2 separate regions of the Homo sapiens genome follow, and region 2 is linked to region 1. A link means that fine-mapping ties the variant in region 1 to the expression of a gene that starts in the linked region. Tissue or cell type: whole blood. Region 1 holds a variant in brackets; the other region holds the start of a gene. All regions are shown on one strand. Distances are between the middles of the regions.

Region 1 (8,101 bases):
CTGTCTCAAAAAAAACAGAAAAAAGAAAACAGGCTGATATGTCTCTGAGAAAGTGAAATCAAGACTGGGAAGGCAAAGAAGCCAGTCGTGTGAAGATCTAGAGGAAGATCTTTCCAGCCAGCAGGAATAGCTAATGCAAAGGCCCTGCAGTGGAAAGAAGCTTGCTGTGTTAGGGTGGGAGGAGCGTAGTGAGTGAGGGGGAGGCAATTTAAGCTGTGATCAGAGAGAGAAGCAGGGGCCAGATCACAGGGTCATCTGGCCAGGGTAAGGAGGTGTATATTTTATTCTACGTATGATGGGAAACTGTTGAAGATTTTCAACAGAGAAATATCAGTCTTACATTTTAAAAGATCCTTCTGGCTACTATGTGAAGAATGGATTGTAGCAGGACAAGACTGAAAGCCTAGAGGCTCATTAGAGAGATTCTGTTTCAGAGTCAATGTGAAAGATGATAAATTTACATCAGGATTGAGATAGTGGGATGGAGAGAAGTGATTGGAGTCAGGATATGTCTTAGAGTTTTCAGGATTTGGTCATGTGGGAGGTGAAGGAAAGAGAGGAAATCCAGGTTTTTCTTCTTATTTTTTTCCCTCTGAGACAGGGTCTTGCTCTGTTGCCCTATGCTGGAGTGCAGTGGTACAATCAGCTCACTGCAGCCTCAACCTCCTGGGCTCAAGTGATGCCTCAACCTCTCAAATAGCTGGGACTACAGGTACATGCTACCATGCCCTGCTAATTTTTTAATTTTTTTTTTTAAGAGATGGTGTCTTGCTATGTTGCCCAGGCTGGTCTTGAACTCTTGGGCTCAAGTGATCCTCCTGCCTCAGCCTCCCAAAGTGCTGGGATTACAGGGATGAACCACCATGCCCAGCCCAAGGTTTTTCATTTGTGTATCTATTATTTGAGTGGAAGATGATTGTCCTTTATTGAGATGGAGAAGAATAGAGGAGCATTTCAGGGGTCTGAGGAAGGAAATGGCAAAATCTTAAGGCCCATAATATTGCTCTTGGTGACATGGTTTTGCTGTTGGCACCAAGGAGGCTTTTCCTGACCTCACATAGAACCTTGTGCAATCAGGGCACTAAGTTATATTGTTTTGCCACTTTGTCTATTCTGTCTTCCCTGCTGGACTGGGAGCTCCTTGAAAGCAGGAACACTCATTTATGTCTATATCCAAAGCACATAGTAGACACTCAATGAATGTTGAATGAATGAATAATTAAATGAATGAAGTGCCATTCTGTGGAACTCAGGTCAGTCACCTGAGAGTAGATCCAGGAGAAGAGGGATATCTGATCCTTGTTCTCAGAGAGTTTGAAATCTAGAAGGATCTTTGGTGAAAAGTAAAAGTGATCCCTACCTAAGATCCTGACTGAAGGCCGTGGGCCCTGGTACCCCCCTCCTGGCTTTCTGAGCCTTTACCCCACCAGAGGGAGGAACTCCGCCCTTCCCTCCACCACCCTAACTATTCTTGCCTGGGATCCGCATGGCAATTCCAAATGTCTGGTCCTATTCCAGGTGTGCGGTGGCTCTGGATGCTTGGATGTTTCCTCTGGAACGTGACTTTTACCCCAAGGCCCGAGGACCTGTGTTCTTTATCAATACTGAGAAATTCCAGACAATGGAGAGTGTCAATTTGATGAAGAAGATATGTGCCCAGCATGAACAGTCTAGGATCATAACCGTTCTGTGAGTAAACCACAAGGTCGTGATCCCAGGGCCCTCTCCATTTGCCACTTGCTGTGGTGCCCTTAACTTCTGGATTACCCAAAACTTTCTACCCATTAGTAGGATACCTGAATACTTCCTGAATTGCAAAGTCTAAATTCTTTTAGAATTTTCTGTCTGTCCTTCTTCTCCACTGAGCTCCATCTACAGTGATTTATTCCATAGTTTATCTGACTTTATGACAGGATTTACCTAGTACTTTCTGAAAAAGGGCATTATGGGGTTGGGTGTTGGAAAGGAAGTGGTGTGGGTTTGGATGAGTTCCAGAGATTGCTAGCCTCATTTGGGAATTTTATTGGGTCTTTGGAAGAGTGTGAATATGGTAGACCTTTGATATTCACCAGACACATTTCTAGAGACCTTCATGAATACCAGAATCACAGATCACTGTTAACATATGTTGTCTTCCATAAACCTTCTATATTCTGGTCAAGAGAAGCCACATTTTTTCACTTCCATCATCAGCACTATCAGTTAGTTTTCTTTTGGGAGCCATTTTTCACAGGGAAAAAAACATTTTTAGTGACTTTAAGAAATGTTCCACATGTGGGAGGTGATATTGAGCCACAGATGTCGGGCTGAGATCTCACGGACTGCTCCTGCCCTGCAGTTGAGCCCAGCGGCACACAGGATCCAGGGATCCATCTGGTTCCTATTTCAGCAGAATGACAAGTGACTGCATACCATGGACCTTTGGAGTCACTGGGTAGTTGAAGTGCCAAATCCAGAGCCCTCGAGCACTGGGGCCGGCAGTATGGCCAGTGGCTTCTTCCCTTGCTCATCTTGGTCCTGGCCCTCTTTCCTAGGGCCACCCCTCCTCGTTCAGTTAGGTTTCATGGCAGTAGACACTGCCTGAATGCTTCCCCAGGTCAGATTCAGGAGGGAAAGGAGGTGAGGCCAGTTGGGAAGGGGTACACTCAGGGGACTTAACGCCTGGCAATGTATCGTTTATTCAACTGAGTGCTGGATACTCAAGTATCCCATATATTATTCTATACACCTTTTTGTGTGCCTTAACTAATGCATTTTTTAAAGTCAGTTTTTCTGTGATATCAGACAAATACTTTAGCATTTAGATTCTCTTTCTCTCACTGAATTGACTAGTAAATTCAGTTATGAATAATTTAGCCCAAAATTAACCTAGCAAGGATTTCACCTGCAAATTAAATTTATTTTCTGCCAAAGGACTTAAGTTCCAACCCAGAAACCCCCTTTTACAAAGCACTCACTCTTACTTTTCTGATTGTTTAAATAAAGGCAAGTAATTCCTTTTCCCTCTTCACTCTGTGGTACAGTTCTGAAGAATAACTTCATTTGTTTTGTGAATGTTTGAAATTCACCAGGCAAAAGCCACAGCTAATAGATTGTAGTAACATAGAAATGCCACGTGCCACAGATCCCACCTCCTTGCTCCTGTCCCTGCTCCTGCTAGCTCAACCTTTTCCCTGCACTGCCAGGCATTGTAGTCTACGGGTCAAGCCAGCTTTGAAGCCAAGCACATCTGGCTTCAAATCCTAACTCCATCCCCAACTACTTGTATGACCTGACCCTAAGCAGATAGTTTCTCTCCTTGGATTCTGTCAAGGGGGAAAATACTTCCCTTACAAGGTTGCTGTGAAAATAAAGTGTGATAATACATGAAAAGCACCTTGCACATAGTAGGTGCCTAACACACATCTGTATGCCCTAGCCGCCAGACCCCTGCCAGTTGTTTTTCTTTTCCCCTAGTGGTTCTGTTCATCGGAGTCAAACTGACTTTGCTTTTGTGACTGGCAACTTGATTGGTAAATTCTTCTCCACTGAAACCCGTGGGAGCCTGGACCCCTATGAAGGGCAGGAGGTTATGGTACGGGCCATGTTGGCCTTCCTGCAGAAGCACCTCGGTAAGGAGAAAACTGGGGCTCTTGGGGCAGCTGTGGGGTCCCTTAGATTTCCTTGCAGCAGAGTGAGAACTCTGACATGTCTGGGATCTGGGAAGGAGATTTATGGCAAATGGAAAACCTGAGTGAAGGAGAGACTTACATAGAATTACAGAAAAAACAAGTCCAGGTGCAGTGGCTCACGCCTGTAATCCTAGCACTTTGGTGGGTTGAGGTGGGAGGATGGCTTGGGGCCAGGAGTTCGAGACCAGTCTGAGCAACATAGTGAGACTCTATCTTTACCAAAAAAAAAAAAAAATTAGCTGGGTGTGGTGGCACACACCTATAGTCCCAGCTACTCGAGAGGCTACGGTGGGAGGATCAGTTAAGCCTAGGAGGTCTAGGCTGCAGTGAGCCATGATTGCACCACTGAACTCCAGTCTGAGCAACAGAGCAAGACCTTGTTTCTAAATAAATAATTAAACAAATAAATAAGAAAAAATACTTAACTGAAAGTTTGGAGATCCTGACTATCTTACTTGCAGAATGACCTGGCCTAGTCATTTAACCTCTCTGAACCTTGGTTTCCTCCCTGTAAATGGAGTATTCACCTCTCTCTACTCCACCACCTCTCTCCTTACCCAGACTCATTATTGCCCACCTTATCTGCATTGTAGGGGAGTTTATGAGGATAACGGGCTAAATTTATGGAAGTGTTTTAAAGAAACAAAGCATGGAAGGACTATGAATAATGTCATCAGTCATAGAGCAGCTAAAGGGCGAGGCCTGCAGAGGTCCATGGTCCAGCTTCCACCCAGAGGAGGCATCCTCTTATTAAGCTTTATTGGTTACAAAGACTAGAGGTTCACAAACTTAGCTTGAGAAAAAAAGGGGAGTTTGTTTATGAGAGTGCACCTGGACTGGGTGGGAGTGCAGTTATAGAAATCAGGGTGGCTGGCAGGACTGACTTTTCTTTCCGTCTGTCTCATGGGTTCAGTCTCTCTGTGTCTTCCTCTCACGACATCTCTTTTTCTTTGTTCCGTTATGCATTTTTTTTTCTGCTCTGTGGTTTTTCTCTCACTGATAGC[A/C]GCTGTTTATTCCATTTCTGCTTCCTCATAACTTCACTCGGCTTGAACCACTCAGAGTGTGTTCCCTTTAGCTTGCGGCATCCTTTCATCTTCAGCTCCCACTGCTCACTGCCATATTTTTTTGGATTTCTTTGAACAGATTTCCAAGAGAGGCAATTTGATTGTATCAGCTCCTCTTTGCCCACCAGAACACACTGTAGCCCCGTCCCAGCTAGGCTCTGAGCTCTCTGCATCAGAGGTCCCTTTCTGATCCCTCAGCAGGTGCTGTGTGCAGGGCAGTTTCCATGAGAAAGGAGCCAGGCTTGTCTGAATTTCAAAGGTTTGACTTAACTCTAACCTAAGAGCAAGATCTCCTAGTTTGTAACCCTCCTCTACTTGCCCAGGTTAACCCCTCAAGAGCTACCCATAGAAGCCTCAGACGGCACCTGGCAGTTCCCTAGATATTTGAAGTCACCTATGCTAGTCTTCTCTGAGTGTTCTGTTTATTAAACTAAATGTTCGTGGTACCTCCACCTGTCCCGGTTCAATTCCCCATGTTGCTATTTGTTATCCCCTTCCTTTGGAGTCGCTGTTTTTTGGTGCCCCTTCTAAAGTGTAGTGCCCTGGCCGGGTGTGGTAGCTCAACATCTGTAATCCCAGCTACTTTGGGAGGCTGAGATGGGAGGATTGCTTGAGGCCACGGGTTTGAGACCAGCCTGTGCAACATAGTGAGACCCCATCTCAGCAAAAAAATAAATAAAATTAGCCAGGTATGGTGGCATGTGCCTATAGTCCCAGCTACTCGGGAGGCTGGGGTGGAAGGATCACTTGAGCCTGGGAGGTCAAGACTGCAGTGAGCCAAGATCATGCCATTGCACTCCAGCCTGGGCAACAGAGTGATACCGTCTCCAAAAAATAAAATAAATAGATAAACTGTGGTGCCCTGACTTGACTATAATGTATTAGATGTGGTCTGACCGGTGCCATCCTGGACAGTCTCTTCTGTGCTCTGTTTTTTGTTTTGTTTTGTTTTGTTTGAGACGGAGTCTCACTCTGTCTCTCAGGCTGGAGTGCAGTGGTGTGATCTCAGCTCACTGCAACCTCAACCTCCTGGGTTCAAGCGATTCTCCGGCAGTTCTCCTGCCACAGCCTCCCAAGTAGCTGGGACTACAGGCATGTGCCACCACACCCAGCTACTTTTTGTATTTTTAGTAGAGACAGGGTTTCACCATGTTGGCCTGGCTGGTCTCGAACTCCTAACCTCCAGTGATCCACCTGCCTCGGCCTCCCAAAGTGCTGGGATTACAGGTGTGAGCCATCGCGCCTGGCCGTCTCTGTGCTCTGGACACTAGCCTTTTAGTTGGATGACCTGAGTGCATTCACATTCCTCACAAGTGCACAACAAACAGCCTGGATTGAGTTTGCATTTAAAACACATCTGTCTTACGCATTTATTGACTTTTTGGAAGTAAATTTTCATTTTTATATTTCTGCCTGTTCGTTTCATCTTACACATCGTGAGCCTTGATTCCAGCCTGTGTTTGGAGACCTTAGGGTCAATAAGAGATTTTAGGGCATCATTCTTATCACCTGGCAAGCAGGGAATGGACCCATGTCTCAAGACTTTAATGGCGCCTGACTGCCTGGTCCTCAGCCCCCTTCCCCTGTCCCCTCATAGGCACCATGTCATTATAAAAGCTTAAGATGAAAGATGATGGGAAGCCCACCATGGCACGATTGGGCTCCCTTTAAAAGCAATACCCGTTGAGCTAAGATACTCACTGTTAGAAACCTGCTAGCAGACATGGAAATGGGAGGTAGGAGGCACTTAGACTGAAAGAAGATTTTTGAGGACTTACTTTATGCCAGGCCTTCTGCTCCTGCTTTATCGCGTGTAATTCTAGAGACAGCCCTTTCCAGTAGATACCTTTATTATTAACTGCATTTTACAGGGGAGGATACCAAAGCGTAGGAAATTTAAGTAATTTCTTTAAGGTTATCTGGTTATCAAGTGGCAAAGCCAATATGTAACCTAGACTGGCCAATTCCAAGGCCCATGCCCTTAGTCACTTCACTATGCTGGCGGTGACTCTGGTGACAATTCAGAGTGATAAGTTCCATGGCCACAGTAGGCACTCAGTCTTTAGACTGTCCACACGGAGGACAGTCTCCTAACTTTGACAGGAGAGGAAGAACAGCTAGGAAAGGGGGCTTCCTTGACAACACAATGTTTGCCTTTAATCTTAGTGGAGGGTTCACAGGCAGGAAAGGGCGAGGGTCTTCTGGACAGAAGGCATAAATGCTTGAGTGGGCCTGGTCAGGATTGGGAAACTGTGTTTAGTGTATCTGGAGCTCAGGAGAGTGAATTGTTGAAAGGCAAAGATAGAGAAGTGGGCAGAAGCCAGAGGAAGAAGCCTATGGATTTGCTGAAGTGAGTTTGAATGTTATTCCACAGGCTGTCAGGAGCCCCTGGTGAGTTCTAAGCAGGTGAATGTTGTGATTAGACTTGTGTTCACAGTCTGGTGCATTGTGGAGGATGGGGCAAGGTGAGAGGCAGGGAGCTCTTAGGTAGGAGGCTTTTGCAGTAATCCGAGTGATAAGAGATAAGACAGTCTGAAAAAGTTGGGCACAGTGGCTCACGTCTATAATCCCAGCATTTTAGGAGGCTGAGGCAGGAGGATTGCTTGAGCCTAGGAGGTTGAAGCTGCAGTGAGCTGTGATTGTGCCACTGCACTCCACCCTGGGTAACACAGTGAGACCCTGTCTCAAAAGAAAAGAAAAAGGCCAAGGCTGTGGGCTTGGGCAAATTAGCTTTACAAAGAGAGAAAAGCTTTTAGTAGGCACACAGTACATTGTCACATGGGAAACTAAAATAGGCTGTAAGTGGCTCAGCTGAACCTCTCACTCTGAAAAAAATTCCTTCTGAGAGCACTTGTTTGGCTGTTCTGGGGATATGATCTTCTATGAAGACTGGTGCTTCCTTCATATTAACTCCATGCAGCTCCTGTCTCCACCTACTCTCCTCTCCCACTCTCCTGGAAGACTATTTCACACCTTTTTTCTCCTCGAACCTCTCACACCTCTTCCCTTATCCTGTCTCTCAGTTAACTTTGCCTCCCACTTCACCAAGAAAATGGAAGCAACCAGCACTTCCTCAGACTCCCAACACCACCTCTCCCCACCTTCCTGTGTATAATCAGCTTTCCTTTCGGTTACTAGAGTTCCCACCTCAGTTGCCTCATTAAGGCCAACCCCCCAACACAAGATTCCATCCTCTTCTGTCTGCTCAACATGATTGCGCCAGTGATTTTTCCCTCTTTATTTTATTTATTTATTTATTTATTTATTTAGGACAGAGTCTCACTCTGTCACCCAGGCTGGAAGGCAGTAGCTGCCATCTCAGCTCACTGCAACCTCTGCTCCCAGGTTCAAGCAATTCTCCTGCCT
Region 2 (8,101 bases), 65 kb after region 1:
ACCTGCACGTATATATCAAGATGGCCTGAAGCAACTGAAGATCCACAGAAGTGAAAATAGCCTTAACTGATGACATTCCACCATTGTGATTTGTTTCTGCCCCACCTTAACTGATCAATGTACTTTGTAATCTCCCCCACCCTTAAGAAGGTTCTTTATAATGTCACCCACCCTTAAGAAGTTTCTTTGTAATTCTCCCCACCCTTGAGAATGTACTTTGTGAGATCCATCCCCTGCCCCCAAAACATTGCTCTTAACTCTACTGCCTATCCCAAAACCTATAAGAACCAATGATAATCCCACCACCCTTTGCTGACTCTCTTTTCGGACTCAGCCCGCCTGCATCCAGGTGAAATAAACAGCCTTGTTGCTCAAAAAAATAAAAATAAAAATAAAAATAAAAAATAAAGTGTTAAATGAATTGAATTTAACCCCATGGGAAGAGTTAACCCAGTAACTACAATTTCCATCAAAGGGTGAAAGTCTAATAGTCATTCACTCATTCAATAACCTATAGCAGGCCAGGCACCGCGGCTCACGCCTGTAATCCCTGCACTTTGGGAGGCCGAGGCAGGTGGATCACCTGAGGTCAGGAGTTTGAGACCAGCCTGATCAACGTGATGAAACCCCATCTCTACTAAAAATACAAAAAATTAGCTGGGCATGGTGGCGCACACCTGTAATCCCAGCTACTCAGGAGGCTGAGGCGGGAGAATCGCTTGAACCTGGGAGGCGGAGGTTGCAGTGAGCTGAGATTGCACCACTGCACTGCAGCCTGGGCAACAAAAGCAAAACTCCGTCTCAAAAAATAAAAATAAAATAATCTATAGCAATCAGGAAACATCTCTAGCAATGATACCTAACAAGTGCACAGCACTTTAAATGTGCCAGGCATTGTGCTGTTTTCATTTACATTATTTCATTTAATCCTCACCACTCCCAGAGTGCAAGTGTCTAATATCACAGAAGAGACAGAAGATCACAGAAGGATGAGAGAGGTTGTTCTTTTTTTTTTTTTTTGTGAGACGGAGTCTTGCTGTGTCGCCCAGGCTGGAAGGCAGTGGCGTGAACTCGGCTCACTGCAACCTCCACCTCCCAGGTTCATGCCATTCTCCTGCCTCAGCCTCGTGCGTAGCTGGGACTACAGGCGCCCGCCACCATGCCTGGCTAATTTTTTGTATTTTTAGTAGAGACGGGGTTTCATCGTGTTAGCCAGGATGGTCTCGATCTCCTGACCTTGTGATCCGCCTGCCTCAGCCTCCCAAAGTGCTGGGATTAGAGGTGTGAGCCAGCGTGCCCGGCCAAGAGGTTGTTCTTTCCCAAAGTTCTCTGCAAACATTCAGGCGCCATCATCCTGGGCCAGGCCTGAGGATGGGCACTGCACTAGGGATACCAAGACAAAGACAGCACCCTGCCCTCTAGGACCTAATGGTCTAGTGAGGGAGATCGATGTGTAAAACAGCAGACTCATAGACAGGTTTTGAATAGAGAAGGGAGTGTTAGAGCATAGTGCTTGAGGATTAGGAGACAAAGGGAACAGAGAGACCGGGGACAACAAGCAAACCTCTCCCACGACACCCTTTGGCCGAGGACAGGCCTCGAAAGCAGCTGTGGAACTTGGAGGCGCCATGTGGGAGACAAACCCTGCAGCCTCAAGCCCAACAATGAACAAAGGCTGCCGGGCTCTCTGGCAGGAGAGGAGATCTGACAACGGCCTGGCCCGCCGTTTGATCAGTGTAGACATTCCTTCTAGACTTTGAAGCCTGAAGTGCTCTCCTTTAGCTGTCTACACAGATCAAATAAGCTGGATGACTGCCCTATCTCCACTTCGTTGTGTGGCTCCATAGTCACAGCCAGCTCCATAACAATCCAACCAAACCATCTGAGCAGAAGCAAAAATAATTCTTATGGGCAAAGATAGACAGTTCCAAGATGTGAACATTAACTCCTTGCTGCCACTTCAGAAGAGAGTGGATCTTGAAGTTCGTTTTAGGAAGCTTTCGAGAAGGGCGATTCTGCCCCTCTCCAAGGTGAAGTGGCAAAACTGTTGTCTCTCCTTACAGTTGAAAGCCCTTCCTATTCCAAGGCTTATATAGGACACCCACAAAAGCTGACAATAATGAGCTGTGATCTGGCTCTTGGGAAGGCAGCCCCACCCTAAAGAACAAGGATCAGACTGGGTGTGGTGGCTCATGCCTGTAATCCCAGCACTTTGGGAGGCTGAGACAAGAGGATTGCTTGAACCCAGGAGTTCGAGGCCAACCTGGGCAACATAGTGAGACCCTGTCTCAATTTTTTTTAAGTCAAATAATAATAATAATAATAATAATAATAATAATAATAATAATAATAATAAAAGGACAGGAATCCCACCTCAAAAGCACCTTTTTATTCAAAGGCTCATTCTAGGGGAAACTTTAACCCAGCCCTCTCAGTCCTCAAGCAGCTGTGAGGAGCTTGGAACATTGTCACAGACTGGCAGAACCAGGCATCTCCCAACAAACCCAGAAGCCAAGTGGCATTGCTAAAAAAGATTAAAAATGAACATGAGTTCTAACATCTACGTTCCTTGCTATGGTTTCCATGGAAATAGACATCTGCTCTAGGGAGAAAGAAAATGTGGGGGGAAGCAGTGTAAGTGCTTTCAAATTATCAGTGTTTTGAAAGATTTATTTCTTTTTTCTGTCACAACATTAATAGTCAGGAATGTGAGACTTTTGTGTGGCAATTTATTGTACTTAAAAAAATGCATTAAATGAGTGGGACCTTCCTCTGTGAACCTCCAGATCAAATACAAAGACTTCAAGATAAAAAGCCTGTTCAGTGGGTAAGGACCTCTTGGGCTTGGGTTCCTTGCTCATTTGTGTTGCCTGCCTATCTGTCGCTTTCCTGAGGGGTCTCATGCCCATCCTTCTCCAACTTTTCTAATGATGTCTGAGATTCTGTTCAGAAAAATGACAGACGGAAGCACCTAGCCATTTTGAAGCTAAGTTTGGTCTGAGAAGAAGCCTTTCAAGGCTCAGTATCTGAATTATTCCTGGTCCTGCTCACAGGCTAAGTGAAAACCACTTCGATTGGCTTGGGGGGGAGGCCGACCCCACACAAGGGCGATTGTTGGAAAAAATGCCGCAACAAGCATATTTCAGGCAACAGCGCATTGCTAATTGTTTGCTTTGTGTAGTGTGCTGCTGCTTGTATGATCCAGTTTTTATTGTCTTGGGCACCCCTTAGTTGTATTTTATCTCTGGCACATCCCTGGTGACTAACTAGGCATGAGAGTCTTTCTAAATTAGGACTGTTGTTTCAGGAAGGTTGGTCACATTTGTTTCTTGATTTGGGGAGATGCAGCTCATTAATAAAATAAAGATATCTCTTCTGCTTAGTCAAGATCTCAAAGCAGGTGTCTTGGTGTATTGACCACCAACCGAGGACACGGTCTTGGTCAGAGAATGGGAGGAGGCGGGGACCATGTTCATTTCATTTATTTTTTTCCCCTTTTTGTGAGAGAAAGGGCCAGTTATTCTAAGGCACGGTCAGACCAATTTCCTTTGTGCCTTTGCTGAGGTTCTGAGCTATCCAGGTCAGGGAGAACAGTGACCTTGTGGCTCCTTTTTCGATTTTTAAAAAGAACCCAGTGCTGCTCTGGGGAGCACGTGCTCTGAGAACAAAAGCAACACTTAACTGCAATCTGTGTAGTCTAGAACGGCTATTGCTCTTCCTCCCCTATCATCCGCAGAAGGCTTGGAAGAACAGATGGAGTCTGCATTTAAGCTGAGTGGCTTTGTTAGACCAAAGGCGATCAAATTCCAGAGCCCCACGCTTTCCCGCACAGGTCCCTGGTCACCGGCTCGGGAACCTGAGGATGCTGGCAAGAACGCACACAGTGAGGGAAGGGCCACGCCCGCGACCTGTGGGCTGAGTGGATTAGAAATTACGATGATGTCACAATATGGGTGACACGCCGGTGTCGGTGTAGGGTGCCGGGGGCAGGGGGCCCTGCAGGGGCGTGGAGTGGCATTGTGCTGTCACAGGGGCTCGGGCGTCTTAGGCACCCATGTGGGTGGCGCACTAGAAGGGGCACTGCTCTGTCCGAGTGCTGCCCTTGGGGCGAGGCGGGCATGTGGCTCTACAAGGTGGAGTCCAGGCGGCCAAAGTTTGGAAAGGTAGGGAAGGACCCCCCCGCCCTCCGCCTGCTCCGCCCTGCCCTTGTTCTCGAGAATGGGGAGCTGGTTCGGACCTAGTCCGGGGTCCACTGCCACGCCCTCTTCCACGGCGAGACCACCCCCCTAGTCCCAGGCCCACACCTGGGGATGCTCCCCAGGCGCCCTGCAACCCCCGGCATTGTCCTCCTGCCCTCCGGGACAGGACTACACTTCCCGAGGTGCTTCGGGGTCCCGGGGGGCGGCGCTCCACGCGGGTTGTGGGGGGCGGGGGCGGCACGTGCCGCCGCTCTCGGCCAATGCGGAGCCCCGCGCGGAGGTCACGTGCCTCTGTTTGGCGCTTTTGTGCGCGCCCGGGTCTGTTGGTGCTCAGAGTGTGGTCAGGCGGCTCGGACTGAGCAGGTGGGTGCGGGGCTCGGAGGAGGCGGCGGCTGGCTGAGGCCAGCAAGAGGGACGCGGTCGGCGGGAGGGGCTGGGCCGTGGCAGCGACCCCCTGCTGCAGGGCGGCGGGCGGGGCTGCGGGCCTCGGAGGGGTTGGTGGGCGGGGGTCGCTCCGCTTTGTGTGTGGCTCGGGCGGAGCCTCGCCTTTGTCCCCGCTCTCCGGGGGCGCGGCTGTTCGTGGGCAGGGGGCTGGGCGATCACCGGGCGTCCGCTCCGGGGTGCCGTCGAGGAGACAATAGGGGGCGTGGGCCCTCGTTTACCTCCCTCCCTCCCTCCCTTCCCTGCGGGCCCCGCCGGGTTCCCCATTGTCTGAAGGGACGGGGCGGTGCCCCAGGGACCAGCGGCTTTAGGACCAAACTGCGGGCAGCCAGGGCCGCGACCCTCCCTGCGACCGTCCCCTGGCGACCGCAGCTGGTGATTGAGGGGCGGCGCTCCCGGGCCCCACGAGGGTTCTTCTGTCTTCGCGGCCGGACGCGCGGACAGCGTGGGTGGCGGCAGGTTGGGCATGGGGACGGCGGGAGGCGGTGGCGAGCTCACCGCGGGACCACCCGGGGGCCTGTTCCCGGGGCCTGCCCCACCCGCTGAACTGTGAAGGGGGTGGTGGCGGCGGCCTGGAGGTGTTTTTGGCGGGAGTTGGGGGGGGCGTCCGCGCAGGGGGAGTCAGGCAGGGGCGGAGTTACCCGGATTGGACCGTTAGCCCCGCCCACCCCTCCCCTTCCCACGCGCGCGGGCTCCGGGGTGTTGAGTTCGGGGAGATTCGAAAAGGCGCGGGGAGGAAGGGGGCGGGGCCAGGGGCCGGAGCGCAAGGCGTGCTCTGATTGGCCGGGGGCGACCGGTCCTCTTTTCCTCGCCCGGACCAGGGCCACGCCCATCCTGGGTCCGGTGCTGCGTCTAATTCTCTGCTTTTCTTAAATCTTGTCGCTGCCTCTGATTTTAATTCCTAGCTTTTGGGAACCTGTCATCCTACGTTTTTGGTACTAGCTGGCGTCTACAAAAGTCATAATGTTAAAAAGATCAACAAGAGATACAGCATTTTTCATGACATAACGGCAGCAAATATAAGTCAAAATCTAGAGGTTCATAAACATTTTGCTTGCTGTTGGGCAAGGAAGCTTAAACCTGAGGGACAATAGGAGTTCAACATTATTGGTTACTATTAGCTTGGGCGTTTTCTTATCCACCACGTCAGACACAGACAAAGCAGGGGTGGGTATTTCATTTGCACAATGAGTTGTAGGCAGTATTAAGATGGCTCCGGGGGCACTGTTGAGTTGAATCTGGAATATCTTCTTACAGTTTCGGTGAAATGTTAAAGAGTTTATGGGGGAAAAATTCTTCACCCTTGTGACTTTGTCTGATTTTAAAAATCCAAGAGTTTTATGACCGAGAAAGCTCAGTTAACTTGATTTTCTGGAACCAATATCATATTCAGGTCATATTTCCCAATGTTTATTTAGTAGATTTTGATAATTTTTTTCGTGGTTAATTTAGACGTCTTTATTCCACGTATTTTTCTGACGATGTATGTAGATGTGATGTGAGATTTTTTTGGGTTGATGACATATAGAAAGGCAAAGAAAGTGATTGCATGTTTTTGAAAATCATTTTCAGGACTTTCCTTATCCCAGTTGATTGTGCAGAATACACTGCCTGTCGCTTGTCTTCTATTCACCATGGCTTCTTCTGGTAGGTAATCTATTTGGAAAATCTGAAATTGTAATGGGCTTATGATTTTAGATTGAGATGGCTCAGGTCTTCGCCTTTGATTTGGCACTTATGTTTTGGTCTTACCAAAACCTATTTTATGAATAGGAGAAGAATTTAAAAATGATTATCACTTGAATGTGCCGAGAGCTCGTAATTGTTTATTGGACAGTTTGGCTTAGTCTGAAGCAAAATTGTGGAGTTTGCACAAGTCTTTTGTTTATGAAAGCGATTGTCAGATACTGATGTCTCAAAACAGTATTTATTAATCCAAAAATGTTGAGCTTTGTTTTTCTGGGAGATGGTTTTTATTTTTTTTGAGACAGGGTCTCACCTTGTTGCCCAGGCTGGAGTGCAGTGGCTTAATTATAGCTCATTGCAGCCTTGACTTCTGGAGCTCAAGTGGGCTCAAGCGATTCTCCCACCTCAGCCTCCATAGCATCTGGGACTATCGACATGGGCCACCACACCCACCTAATCAAAAAAAATTTTTTTTGTAGAGATGGGCTTTCCCTTTGTTGCCCAGGCTGGTCTCAAACTTCAGGGCTCAAGGGATCTTCCCATGTTGGCCTCCCACGGTGCTGGGATTATAGGCATGAGCCATGGTACCTGGCCTTGGGAAATGGTATTTAGATAATAATATCTTGCCTGCAAATACATCTTCCCCTAGTGTCAGTAGACTGATAGGAATAAAAAGGGGAAAAAAAACACAACTTTCCTCATCAGCCCTAGTTTAATACATTAAATTGATTTGGGTTTTAGAAAATTATAGTACAGTTTATTAGAACAGGAGAATCCTGGTTTTCTGAATTATAAATATAATCAATTCTAGATATCCAGGTGAAAGAACTGGAGAAGCGTGCCTCAGGCCAGGCTTTTGAGCTGATTCTCAGCCCTCGGTCAAAAGAATCTGTTCCAGAATTCCCCCTTTCCCCTCCAAAGAAGAAGGATCTTTCCCTGGAGGAAATTCAGAAGAAATTAGAAGCTGCAGAAGAAAGACGCAAGGTAAACGAAGCAATTCACAGAAAGCAGGATATTAATTTATGTAATGGGCAGATCAATTTTATTTCTATAACAGGAAGAAAACAGAATTGTAGCTACACTGTGATTATTACATATGCCAGTGACTGGAAGGAAATACCAGTCCTCATTTATTGAACTCCTGTTACATGCCCGCTCCTTTGTTTATATTTTTCTCCTTTAATACATGGTGTTGCCTCAAATAATGGAAATTAGAAACAGTTTCAGGAATGTTAAGTCGTTTTTCTGCAGTCATACAACTAGTAAGTGTTGGGGTCAGAATTCAAGCCCTGGTCTATCTTAAACCAAAGCTCATGCTTCTCTCATGCTTCCTCTTTGAAAAGATTTGTTGCCAGATGATTCTTTGGCACTTTGGTTTTGTTTTTTGAGAGCTGTACAATAACATTTTAAATTGCTAGTGTGATTGTGTTGCTCAGCTGGTATCATGGTAGCTTTTCTCTTATCTAAACAATTCTATTATAAAGTAACTATCTTTAAAAGCTAATCAGAAGAATCAATAAATATTAATATGCTAGTTGTAGAAAATTTGGGAAATACAGAAATTTATAAATGGAAATTAAAAGTATTCATTATCCCGCTTCCGAGAAGCAACCAGTGTTAACATTTTGGTGTGTTTCTTTCCATTCAATGTTACTCATTAACAACTGTACATAACTTTTCATTTAACTCCCTTTCTCAACAACCCTGATAGGATTGATTTTAAAGCTGGGGCAAGTGAGGCACAAAAGGTAAGGTAATAACCTTCCCCAGACCAG

The links. PIP is the estimated chance that this variant, and not a neighbour inherited with it, causes the effect.
Region 2: it holds the start of STMN1, and the variant in region 1 is fine-mapped to the expression of STMN1 in whole blood (INTERVAL, PIP 0.92).

Annotation. Positions count from the first base shown.
Region 1 is chr1:25,968,068-25,976,168 of GRCh38, reverse strand. It overlaps PAFAH2 (platelet activating factor acetylhydrolase 2), which reads left to right. Exons shown (of 11, transcript NM_000437.4): 9 at 1,519-1,689; 10 at 3,457-3,611. Among named protein-coding and RNA genes, the nearest start is that of PAFAH2, 26 kb to the left of the region's middle. The variant A/C (reference allele first, on the strand shown) is at 4,676.
Region 2 is chr1:25,902,850-25,910,950 of GRCh38, reverse strand. It overlaps STMN1 (stathmin 1), which reads left to right and starts at 4,532. Exons shown (of 5, transcript NM_005563.4): 1 at 4,532-4,562; 2 at 6,213-6,287; 3 at 7,138-7,310. The coding sequence starts at 6,275. It overlaps MIR3917 (microRNA 3917), which reads left to right and starts at 4,497; the gene lies at 4,497-4,589. LOC105376885 (a long non-coding RNA gene) reads right to left here and starts at 4,401. Exons shown (of 2, transcript XR_947102.1): 1 at 4,305-4,401; 2 at 2,708-3,915. RefSeq lists silencers at 4,290-4,599, 4,620-4,709, 5,100-5,519, 5,299-5,593.